Linked DNA regions of Homo sapiens: regions 2 and 3 are each linked to region 1. The links come from fine-mapping of genetic effects on gene expression. A gene starts in region 1. Each other region holds a variant in brackets. All regions are shown on one strand. Distances are between the middles of the regions. Region 1 holds the start of SLC31A2 (solute carrier family 31 member 2). Region 2 overlaps FKBP15 (FKBP prolyl isomerase family member 15). Region 3 has its middle 13 kb from the start of FAM225A.

Region 1 (4,244 bases):
ACCCACTGTCTCCACACAGGCCAACCTTGAATGTGCACGCTCCTCCTGTGTCACACACATCAGATCCACAATACTGCTCATGGCATAAATATAAAATAATAGAGGTATCGTTGGAGAGAAGATGGAAGGCTAGTTGATGGAGTTAACAGGGAAAATATGCAAAGGTCCTGGCCATAACATGTTCAACTCCACCCTCAGGCTCACTTATAACTGCAGATCAGCACGTGGAGGGCAGTTGCAGGTCATCCATTCCACCCCTCACTGTACGGATGGGGACATCGAGGTCCCAGAGACGGGCAGTGGCATCCTTGGGGATCACACAGCCTTACCTACACATAAAGACCCAACATTCTGCAGGAATTACATGTTGTGCATGTGGTCTTTTCATGAGTCTCAAGTTCCTCTACTGAACCTCAGAAGGAGAAATGACTGGTTGGATTTCCGCTCTATCAACTGACTACAAATGAGCCCAGGTTAAAGGGCCTCTAAATAATCTTTGTGACACTCAAGGCAGTGCCATCTTTCCTGAGTGGGGATTCTGTCTCGGGGGGTCTAGGTGTGCTATGGAAAGACAACAACAGACTATTGCTCCGTGAAAGGAGGGGAGTCATGGGCTGTCAAAACACAGAATCCGGAATCTCTTGCCATGGACCCAGGCTTGGGTGGCTGTGTTGTGATCTTATGATCTAGGATCCCATGGTTTGCAACAAGCTCTCTGCCTGGGGGACAGGGAAGGAGTGCCTCTGGTGGTACAGAAAGAAATTTTAGGACTCCCTGGCTAAGTGTTGTAACCAAAACATCCATGAGGAAGTTAGAAGTAAGTGTAAAGGTCATCAGATTGTGACAAAGCCAACAAAAACCGTCAAATGAATAAAGCTGTGTTGCAGATTCTTCAATGCAGGTGGGGGGAGTGGGGTGCACCAGAGCCCACTTATGTGAAGGTCAGATTATCTTACTCCTGCTTCCCATGTAAGGCCCAGAGAGGTGAAAAGCTACACCCAAAGCCCTCCCCAGCTCTTGGAACCCAGATGCTTCAGAGATACCCTTAGCCCTTCTCCCCAGTGCTTCCCCATGGCCCAGTAAACCATGACAGCAGCAGCTCTCCCTCTCCAGCCCCATCACAGTGCCACGGCCCATGTTCTCTCCCTGAAGCTGCTCCATTAGCTTTCAGACTGAGAATCTTAAAAGCTGTGTGGGCCGGGCAAGATGGCTCACGTCTGTAATCCCAGCATCCCAGCACTTTGGGAGGCCGAGGCGGGCAGATTACGAGGTCAGGATTTCAAGACCAGCCTGACCAATATGGTGAAACCCCGTCTCTACTAACAATACAAAAATTAACCAGGCATGGTGGTGCGCGCCTGTAGTCCCAGCTACTCGGGAGCCTGAGGCAGGAGAATTGCTTGAACACGGGAGATGGAGGTTGCAGTGAGCCAAGATCGCGCCACTGCACTACAGCCTGGGCGACAGAGCGAGACTCTGTTTCAAAGAAAAGAAAAAAAGCTGTGTGACCCTGAGGATTCTACCATTTACTGAACAAGCTCCCACTGCCAGGTTACATGATAATTTAACATGTATGTTTTCATTTAATCCCTATGACATAGATTTTATTATTATTTTCATTTTACTGACCAGAAAACTGAGGTTCAGAGATGTAAGCTATTTGCCTACGGTCCCAAAGCCAATAGTTGATGCGTATGGATGTGAACTGAGGTTAGCTCCAGGCTCAAGGTCTCTGCTAATACTGTCCTTAGTAAGGTTTCTCTGAAGAGCCTCTTTACTCATAGGCTGATTAGCAAAGGGTTCCTAAATATGCTTAAGAATCAATAACCATTAAAAATCCCTCACCCTACAAGAAACTCCCCATCAAAAAACTGGATCAGTGAAATGAACAGGCAATACACAGAAATGGAAGTACCCGTAAGAAAAATAGTTTACTACCCTAGTAATCAAAGAAAAACAAAATTACACGGGTGTATTCCTTTTGGCTTATCAGATTGGAAAATATTTTTCTAAAAAGAAAAATGTAATTATCTTGTAATGACTACACTAAAAATCTAGGGCATAATTGACTTAATTTACTCCAAATGTGTTGCTATTGCGTCCATAGCACGGACTTGCCCATTTCAACTCAATATATGTTACGCTTGGGGTAGTTTATTACAATGAGCAATAAACATTCTCATAATCGCCAAGACAAGCCAAGTGCAAAACAGGAAGGGCGAAGACAGAGGGCAGCAGGTGGTCCCTCTCGCTCGCGACTCCGGGAACGCCAAGCCTCAGCCCTTGGGAACCTGGGGCGAGGCGCCTGGGTCTCGGCCAGGGGGCGCGCCCGAGGACGCCGAAGTAGGGCGCGTGTGGGGACCACAACTCCCAGGCGCCCGCGCGCCGCCTCGCCCGGACCACGTGATCCGTGCGGCCAGGGTAGCTATCGCGGCGGCGGCGGCGGCGGCGGTTGAACTGACTCGGAGCGAGGAGACCCGAGCGAGCAGACGCGGCCCTGGCGCCCGCCCTGCGCACTCACCATGGCGGTAAGGGCCGGGCGCTACGGTGAAGAGGGTGGGCGGTTGGGGCGGGGTCTCCTGGAGCTGCCATCTCGGCACCCCGAATCCTCGCTGCCGCTGGCCCGGGGCTGGTGAAGGGTGTGTTGGCAGCATTGCCAACAGCTGGAACAGGGTTGGGGGACGCGGCAGGTATAGGTTGCGGTGGCTCTGTGGTTTTCCTCTTTATTTGTCCCTCCTGCTGGGAGGCAGTCCGGCTAGGCGAGCAGTTACCGAGCGCCCGCGGTGGCGCGGCTTGAGAGTGGGGGCGCGGTGGCTGAAGACAGCTGGGTCCGGGGCCCCCGGCCCCGGACCTCTGGCCGGCGCCCCAGGGCGGAGAGCAGCGCCTTGGGAGATTCCAGGAAGGCTTCCACGAAAGGGAAACCCCCGGCGCATTTCAGCCCGCAGCCCCGCGCGCACACCGAGCGCACATCCCCGGCCCTGCTCTTGTCAAGTTTGTAGCCTGATTCTTCGGGGAATAAAACAGAACCAGCTACTTTCCAGCTTCCCTACACTTTCAGTCAGAAAACAGCGTTTCAGACAAGCTGTTTTTCTTGGTAGGGTTCACCTGGGCTGGAGAGAACGACAGCTTGCAAGACTCGTTCGTCTTTGAAGAAGTCATATCATTTTCTTCATCCCATGAAGAATGTCATAGAATTTAAGATACAGGAAGCTCAGCCTGGGCAACATAGCTAGACCCCGTCTCTACAAAAATTAGCCACAAGTGGTGGCAGGCGCCTGTAATCCCAGCTACTCGGAGGCTGAGGCAGGATGAGGAGGATTGCTTGAGCCCAGAAGTTCCAGGCTGCAGTGAGCCATGACCTTCGGCCTGGGCAACAGAACAAGACGTCCTCAAACAAACAAAACAAAAAAAAAAAGATATAGGAAGTGTATGTAGGCCATTTAGTGAAATGATCAGCCGTCCTTTAAAAAGGGAAATAGATGGAAAGCACTTGCAAAAGTTCCCCAGCCAGTCAGCCTAGCAACTGGGACCTTCATCTCCTTCCCAACCCTTGTTTACAAATAAGGAAGCTTTTCTCAAAGTGTAAGTAACCCCAAATGAAGAAATATAGAAGAAAACAAGTTCCAGGGATTGCTCCCTCCTTCACCACAGCCCCACCCTGAAAAAAGCACAAATCAGTTAAACTTTCAGAGGCCAAGATTCATCCCAAGTAGGAAAACAAGATTGGGGCCCTGCCCCTTGCCTATCTGACCACAAAGCCCTTTAATTGAAAACTGTAGCCCAGATCGCTTCTCTCAAGTCAGGGTGTGCTGACTTCCATCTTTTCCTCTAGCAAAAAGGCAAAAGTAGAAAGGGTTGAGTGACAGGTGAGTCTTCGTCCCTCTGGGGCTTCGGACTCCGTGGGTGTTTCCAGCTCTGAACAAACCATACAGTTCATCTTCCCAGCTATCTCCTGCTTCTCTGGCTTCAGAACCATCCTAGCCAACTGCTCTCTGGCCAGGGCAGGTGTCTCTCAGGCGGCTTGGTCCCCAGCACCCCCAGGGAGCCTCCACTGTGCCTCCCTTTCTCTGACCTACAACCTGTTGTAATTATTTGCTCACTTAAATGTCCCCCCTCATAGACAGGTAGCTCCCTAAGGGCCAAAGACTTGTCCCATTCATCTCTGTATCGCCAGGGTCTGCACAGACCTAGCACAACAAAAAGAAATCTTTCAAATTACTCTTACTGTTCTGTGGGTGTTCAGG
Region 2 (4,244 bases), 56 kb after region 1:
ATGTCCTTTAATGTTCCTTGTAGTGCAAATCTACTACAATGAATTCTCTCACTTTTGTTTGGCTGAAAATTTATTTTGCCTTCATTTTTGAAGGATATTTTTGTTGCTATAGAATTCTGTAATAGGCAGGGTTTTGTTTTCCTTTCAGTACTTTAAAGATATAATTCTACTGTCTTTGGATTCCAATTACATGGACGTTAGACCATGTCCCACATCAATCTTTGCCCTGGTCTCTTTCTATTATTTCTTCTCTCTGTGCTTCAGTCTGAATATTTTCTATGTTACTGCCTTCGAAGTCACTAATTCTGTCTCCTGCTGTATTCTGACTCTGTTAAACCCATCCAATATGTTCTTAGTTTCAGAAATTGTATTTTTCAAATCTAGACTGCCATGTGATTATTCTTATAGATTCTAACTTTTTAAATTCTCCATCTTTTCATCCCTTTTGTACTTTTCCTCTATTTTCTTTAAGATATTATTCCTAGTTGTTTTAAGTGCCTTGTATGTTAACTGCAATATCTAGGTTATTTGTGAGTCTGCTCCTAGTTTATTTGTTCCCTTGATTATTAGTTACATTTTCCCACCTCTTCACATGTCAAGTAATTTTTTACCGTAGGCCCAACTTGTATATAAAACAACATGAGGGATAAAATCATAAAACTCTTAGAAGAAAACGTAGAGGTGAATCGTCATGACCTTGGTTTTGGTAATGGATTCTCAGATAAAACACCAAAAGTACAAGTAACAAAAGAAAAAACTTGATAATATGGACTTCACCAAAATTAAAAACTTTTGTACATCAAAGGACATTATCAAGAAAGTGAAAAGATAATCTATAAAATATCTGCAAATAAGGGTTTAATACTCAGAATATATTAAAAGACTACTACAACTCCACAACAAAAAGACAAACAATCCAATTTTTAAAATGGACAAAGGGCTTGAGTAGACATCTCTCCACAGAAAATACATGAATGGTCAATAAGCAAATGAAAAGATACTCAACATTAGACATTGGGTAAAATGCACATTAAAACCACAATAAAGTACCATTCCACACCTACTAGAATGGCAAGAATTTAAAAATAATAATAATAACAAAATGCTGGCAAGGATGTGAAGAAACTGAAACCCTCATACATTGCTTGTGGGAATGTGAAATGGTGTGGCTGCTGTGGAAAACAGTTTGGCAGTTTCTCAAAAAGTGGTACATAAAATTACCATACGAGTCAGCAATTTCCACTCTTAGTATACAGCCAAAATAGGAACTTGACCATATACTTTTATGTCAGTCTTCACGATACATACTTTTTTTGTCTATTCCCAATAGACAAAAGGTATAAACAACCCAGTGTCCATCAACTGATGAATGAATAAACAAAATGTGGTATATACCTACAATGAAATATTTTTCAGCCATGAAAAGGAATGAAATACTGATGCATGCTATAACATGGGTGAACCTTCAGGACATTATGTGAAATGAAATACATCAGTCACCAAAGACAAATACTGTTATGATTCCACCTATATTAGGTACCTAGAAAGGGCAAATTCATAAAAACAAGAAGAGATTTGACCTTATGGGCAGCTGGGAAAAAGGAAGAAGTAGAGTTATTGCTTAATGGTTACACTTTCTGTTTGGGAAATGGATAGTAGTGATGGTTGCTCAATCAATACTGTGAATGCAATTAATGGCACTGGATTATGCACTTAAAAATGGTTAAATGGCAAATTTTATCTTATATATACATATGTATGTGTATATATATGTGTGTATTTGTGTATGTGTGTGTACACACGCACCCCACAATTGAACAACAAACAAACAAAAAAATGCCCAAATTCTTAAGCTAGGATCATATCACAAAGGTCAAATTTAACAATTTTGAATGGTTGGATTTGTTTTAACGCACAATAGTAAGCAAAATGTGATCATTTACTATATGCTTGATGTTATAAATTAACATTCAATACAAATAATCATCCTTATCTTCTGATAAACAAGACATCGGGCAAGCCAGATAAAAGCCAGCTCATTGGTATTATTTGGGACATCTGAATATACATGAGATGTGGGAGCACTCTCACCTCTCTGGCTGTGTGGTTCCCCAGAACTGCAGCACCAAATTTGCCCTGCTTTACATATTGACCATTTGTGCTA[T/C]AAAAGGAAGAGAAACAACAAGTATTAATACTTCCCTAAATTCTGCAGAACCAGCTTTCTTTTCTGTCATACAGAAGTGGGAACAACAGTCATTCAGCCTCTAGGCAGGGACACAGGTGAGCGGTTTAAAATTTTTTTTTTTTTTTTTTTTTTTGAGACAGAGTCTCGCTCTGTCACCAGGCTGGAGTGCAGTGACATGATCTTGGCTCACTGCAACCTCTGCCTCCCAGGTTCAAGCAATTCTTCTGCCTCGGCCTCCCAAAGTGCTGGGATTACAGGAGTGCGCCACCGCACCCGGCCCAGCAGTTTATAATTTAAAGCTCATATACTATTCCCTTACTCTTTAAATATAAATATCTATCATTCATGCTATCTCAGTGGAGAGGCTTTCTTTGAGCATTTGACAGCTGTTGAGGGTACAAGCACTCCCTAAAGACAGTAGACAAGATAATGGCTTTTCAAGTTTTACCACAGAAATCTCCAATTCAGATGTTAAAAGTTCTACTGATATTTTGTCCGTGGAAGGGCTAAATAACCGTTTTGCAACAAACAGAGGTTTTTCGAGAAAAAGTAGCTTAACTGCACGCCCTTCCACCAAACTTCAGAGGGTGTTCCTTCTCAGCGACTTACTATCGATATGCATGGACTGCTGTTGCGACCAGTATTGTGGGAGTGCTCATGGTGGCTGGTGCTGTTTTTGGTGTTGCCTGATTTCCTGAAGATGAACAAGAAAACAAAGTTGTCATTCACTTCTTGCTTTAAACTAATTTTTTTTAAAGACGGAGTTTCACTTTGTCACCCAGGCTGGAGTGCAGTGGCGTGATCTCGGTTCACTGCAACCTCCACCTCCCGGGTTCAAGCCATTCTCCTGCCTCAGCCTCATGAGTAGCTGGGATTCCAGTTGCGTGCCACCACATCCGGCTAATTTTTGTATTTTTAGTAGAGATGGGGTTTCACCATGTTGGACAGGCTGGTCTTGAACTCCTGACCTCGTGATCCACCTGCCTCAGCCTCCCAAAGTGCTGGAATTACAGGCGTGAGCTACTGTACCTGGCCTTAAACTAATTTTTAACCACTGAACTAGCTTCAAAATTGATCTTTATAATTTACAGTCAGTGTTGTAATGCTTTTATGATTATCCTTATTTGATCCACAAAGCAGCCCTATGATCTAGTCTGGGGGTGAAGAAACTGAGGTTCTAATCACCCAAGTGCCTCACACAATTATACCATGATAGTGCCTAGGTCTGAAACCCATGACTCCAACTCCCAACCCACACACCCCAAATAAGTCTTTGGCTAGACAAGGAGTACTGTCTAAAAAGTGATAGTCCATCTATTTTATTTTCTCCTTCCAGTATTTTGACAGCTATAATATATGAAAATAAAGTTATTTCCCCTTCCCTGTCTTCTAGGGTGGGAAATTCAGTAAGATATTTAAATCACACCCATTAATTAACTTCACAAAGTACTACAGAGTAGGCTGGGCGCAGTGGCTCGTGCCTGTAATCCCAGCACTTTGGCAGGCCGAGGCAGGTGGATCACGAGGAGTTCGAGACCAGCCTGGCCAATATGGTGAAACCTTATCTCTACTAAAAATACAAAAATTAGCTGGGGGTGGTGGCGCGCACCTGTAGTCCCAGCTACTCATGAGGCTGAAGAGGAAGAATCGCTTGAGCCTGGGAGGCAGAGGTTGCAGTGAGCTGAGATCGCACCACTGCACCCCAGCCTGGGTGATGGAATGAGACTCCGTCTCAAAAAAAACAAAAAAACAACAAAAAAAAGGGACTACAGAGTAACACTAACATTTTCAAATACCATGTTAAGAGTAAATCACATTTATACTCACTATATGAATGTGATGGAAGAGTAGTGAGATAATACTGATGCGGACATGACATGCAAGAACTTATATTTTGAAAGAACTCGTTTGATTTTTTCTGTATTAACACTTTTTTTTCTGATTATAGAGTACAAGTGCATTGTAGGAAACTTAGAAAATACAGAAACACATAAATTAAAATGCAACATTTTTGTGTGTACTTCCAGTTATCTTCTTATAATAAATTCCTTAAAATGGA
Region 3 (4,244 bases), 25 kb before region 1:
AATAATTTGCTGGCTTAACCAAATGTTGATACTTAGCCCCATGGATGCCTAAGGGAATACTTAGTTAAATATGAAGGACAATACAAACTTGCAGATGTCATATAGTTTTTTTGTTTTTGTTTATTTTTGTTGTTGTTGTTTTTGAGATAGAGTCTTGCTCTGTCACCAGGCTGGAGTGCAATGGCGCGATCTCAGCTCACTGCAACTTCCGCCTTCCAGGTTCAAGTGATTCTCCTGCCTCAGCCTCCCAAGTAGCTGGGACTACAGGAGTGCGCCACCACACCCAGCTAATTTTTGTATTTTTAGTAGAGACGGGGTTTCACCATGTTGGCCAGAATGGTCTTGATCTCTTGACCTCAGGTGATCTACCCGCCTCAGCCTCCCAAAGTGCTGGGATTACAGGTGTGAGCCACTGCGCCCAGCCTGAAGAATGTTTTAATTTAAATTCTGTTTAAATAGAAATTTAAAATTCAATGATTCAAAAATTCAGATGAATTTAAAGAATTTGTCTCTATGCAATGGATAACATACCATTTTTTTTCTTTTTATTCAAACTCATTTTCCAACCCATAACCAGTCACTGAAATTTCAGGTATCCTAGGCGAACTTTTCCCTATGATTCATTTTCATTTACTTTTCATTGATTTTATTTTACAGACTTGTGAGTATTAAATAAATAGCTCTCACTGAGAGCTATTAAATGACAGAAGATGTTTAAGTATTATAACATTTAGTTGTTACAGTAAACTCATTAATATTATGTACTTGTCCTATTTGGGCTAAGTAGAAATGTTTGCATAAATTTCTATACAAGGCCAGCTTGCACCACATTGACTACACAAAGCAAATCGTAGGTGTATGACTGTCGCATTGCTGAATACATTCAGATAATCAGAGGCTCCTTGCATAACTTGTAGCCCAAGCATCGCCAGGATGGCCATGGGAATTGTCATCTGACACCTGATGTCACGTCCTGGGAAACACATTCAGACCCTTTGGATGCACAGAGGCAGTGGGGCATCAAGGGTGTGAGTCTTTTCTTTCTGTGACCCAGGTGAGTAACTTGCTTCCCCTTATGTGCCCTGCTAGTGGACCCGGCTCATAACAGCTCCAGACCCTGATGCTACTGGTGGAGGCCAAATTAAAGCATAAGGGAGTGGTTATTCAGGAGGGATATTTCCAAGCTATAGAAGCTAACCAATTGCTTTCCTCTGCTCCAGATATATTTCTTCCTAAAGAACCAGGACTCTGTGGGTGATCAACAGTTACAATACTGATTAGACACTTAGGAATTTTTATTCAGTCTTTTCCTAACCCTGCAGGGACCTTCCTATTTCTTCCCATAATTGCCACGTCTTTTTTTTCACTCCAGGAATTCTCCTGTCAGAATTCATCTCAGTTTCCCATGCTCTCTTGGCCTTTGTAAACTGGCTGGCAGGAAGTCTGGGATCCCAGGATCCTGTCTGTTAATAACAGCAAATTTAGACGGGTGTGGCGGCTCACACTTGTAATCCCAGCACTTTGGGAGGCTGAGGCAGGTGGATCACTTGAGGCCAGGAGTTCGAGACCAACTCCTGGCTAACATGGGGAAAATTTTTGTATTTTCTCTACTAAAAATATAAAAATCACCTGAGCCTGGTGGTGCATGCCTGTAATCCCAGCTGCTTGGGAGGCTGAGGCACGAGAATTGCTTCAACCTGGGAGGCAGAAGTAATAGTGATCTGAGATTGCACTCTAGCCTGGGCGACAGAGCAAGACTCTGTCTCTAAATAAATAATAAACAAAATTAAGAAGAGATAGGGTTGGTAAAGAGGAGCCAGTAAAGGACATGGAAACAGGCAGGCCACCAAAGGTGGTTGTAGTGGCAACTCCTGCTTTTCTTCCAAGTCATAGACCTGCCTCCCTTGGATTGGGGAGATGCCTCCTGTTTTTTTCCTGTAATCTCAACTCCATTTGTTTATGGCACTGTAAAAATATATGTCCCTTTTTCTAACCTCTTGGGATTCCCTGAGGACAGGGACTGTGCCTGAGCATTTTTGTGTCCCAAGCACCTAGCATCTACGAGTGGACAGGCATTTTCTGGGCTCAGGGCCTCTTCCTGCTCTTTCATCCTTAAGCATTATTTGCTGGCCCACTTAAAGAGGAACCATCAGACTGAAGTGGCTGTAATGCCTTGGGTTCCCACAGAAGCAAACCAAAACCTAAGTCAAATGCATTTCTTATAAATGACTGACTGAGAGGAAATGAAATTTAAGCTTCACCAATCCAAAACCTCCAGCTAACCTCCAATTACATAACTAGGGGACTTTT[A/T]TCTGGGTAATCCAAATAAGGCAACAACATAATTGTAAACAATCAATTATTTTCCATGCTTTGCTTCCTCATTCACCTTATAAAAGCCTTTCCTTCAAGCCTCTCAAATGAAGCTCCAGTCCACGGTTGGGTGCTGCCCAATCCATGGATTTTCGTTTGCTCAAATAAACTCTTTGAATTGTTAATCGTGCCTCAGTTTAATTTCTAACACAGTCAACCTTCTTCAGTCCTTCAGTGAGGTAGAAGATATGGAAGAAAAAGTCCAAGGAAGAATTACCTAGGATCAACACAGAAAGTAAAAGGAAATGAGAATGTGCAGAAGAACAGTTAGTTTCCTTTGAAGTATTAAGGGAGCTTCCTTAATCCTACCTGGACAGTGAAGATCTCTGAGGCCATTGGTGAAAACATCTTCAGACCACCCTAATATCTTTTTTTAAATTTTTTATTTTTTTATTTTTTGAGATGGAGTCTCACTCTGTCTCCAAGCTGGAGTGCAGTGGCACGATCTCACTGCAACCTCCCCCTCCCGGGTTCAAGCAATTCTCCTGCCTCAGCCTCCCAAGTAGCTGGGACTACAGGCACATGCCACCACACCCAGCTAATTTTTGTATTTTTAGCAGAGACGGGGTTTCACCATGTTGGCCAGGATGGTCTTGATCTCTTGCCCTCATGATCTGCCCGCCTCGGCCTCCCAAAGTGCTGGGATTACAGGCACGAGCCACTGCGCCTGGCCCCCACATCCTTTTTATTTAAAAAATTGTTTTTGAGACAGTGTCTCGCTCTGTTGCCCAGGCTGGAGTGCAGTGATACAATCACGGCTCACTGCAGCCTCAACCTCCAGGCTCAAGCAATCCTCCCACCTCAGCCTCCTGAGTAGCTGGGACGACAGGCACACTCTACCATGTCCACCTAATTTTATATTTTGTAGATACAGGATCTCACTATGTTGCCCAGGCTGGTCACAAACTCCTGGGCTCAAGCAATCCTCCCACCTCAGCCTCCCAAAATGCTGGGGTTACAGGTGTGAGCCACCATACTTGTCCCTCACCTCCATATAGTGCGACATGTCATTTTCCTAATACAGACTCTCATTATTCTCTCATTTTTTCAAAAGAGAAACTGTGTTTCCACTATGTCTTCATTTTTCTTATCCCCAGATCTTCCTCCATACATAACTTTTTTCTTTTTAAATTCAGACATGCACAAATATTTCTGTTGTATCAATTAGGAATAAGTATGAATGCTCACAACAGAAAACCCAATTTATAGTGACTTAGGTTTTATTTTTCTTAGGTAACAAGGAGAATAGAAGCAGGCAGTCTAGGACTGGAGTGATGGCTCCGCTGTGCCACCAAAAGTTCTGCTTCCTTCTGTGTCTGCCTGCCCAGCCTGACCTTGTGGCTTGTGTCCTCATGCTCATCACCTTCTGGTTACAAGACACCCATGACCTATAGCATATGATCCCACTTCCAGCCTGAAAAGAAAGAAAAGGCAAAGGGCAAAAATCTTGCTCTAGTTGAGTTTGCCTCCTTGTAAATAACTTTCCTAGAAGCCCCACCCAACAACTTACGTTTACATCTCATTGGCCAGAACTGTGTCATGTGGCCAGTTTGGGTGCAGGGGAGGCTGAGAAGATTTAAGTTGGGCACATTGCTATCCTTAACAAAATCAGGGTCTGTCCGCAGGGAAGAGGAAAGAGTAGATATTGGGTGGACAATCAGCGGTATCTGCCATAACTGTCCGAAAAACAAAATTTGGGTAGGTATTAGATTGGCATAACCTTCCTGGAAAATATTTTGGAATTATGAATCAAGGGCCTTAAAAATAGCTCCACTCTCACCTAGTAATTGCATTTCTAGAAGTCTGTCCTAAGAAAAGAGTCAGAAGTACAGATCAAGAATTCTGTGCATAATTTTTGTCTTTAAATTTTAATT

What was found.
Region 2: its variant is fine-mapped to the expression of SLC31A2 in whole blood (INTERVAL, PIP 0.91).
Region 3: its variant is fine-mapped to the expression of SLC31A2 in whole blood (TOPMed, PIP above 0.99).

What each region holds. Positions count from the first base shown.
Region 1 is chr9:113,148,553-113,152,796 of GRCh38, forward strand. SLC31A2 (solute carrier family 31 member 2) reads left to right here and starts at 2,455. Exons shown (of 4, transcript NM_001860.3): 1 at 2,455-2,528. The coding sequence starts at 2,523.
Region 2 is chr9:113,204,418-113,208,661 of GRCh38, forward strand. FKBP15 (FKBP prolyl isomerase family member 15) reads right to left here. Exons shown (of 28, transcript NM_015258.2): 3 at 2,795-2,879; 4 at 2,092-2,161. Among named protein-coding and RNA genes, the nearest start is that of FKBP15, 15 kb to the right of the region's middle. The variant T/C (reference allele first, on the strand shown) is at 2,165.
Region 3 is chr9:113,123,402-113,127,645 of GRCh38, forward strand. No RefSeq gene overlaps it. Among named protein-coding and RNA genes, the nearest start is that of FAM225A, 13 kb to the left of the region's middle. The variant A/T (reference allele first, on the strand shown) is at 2,311.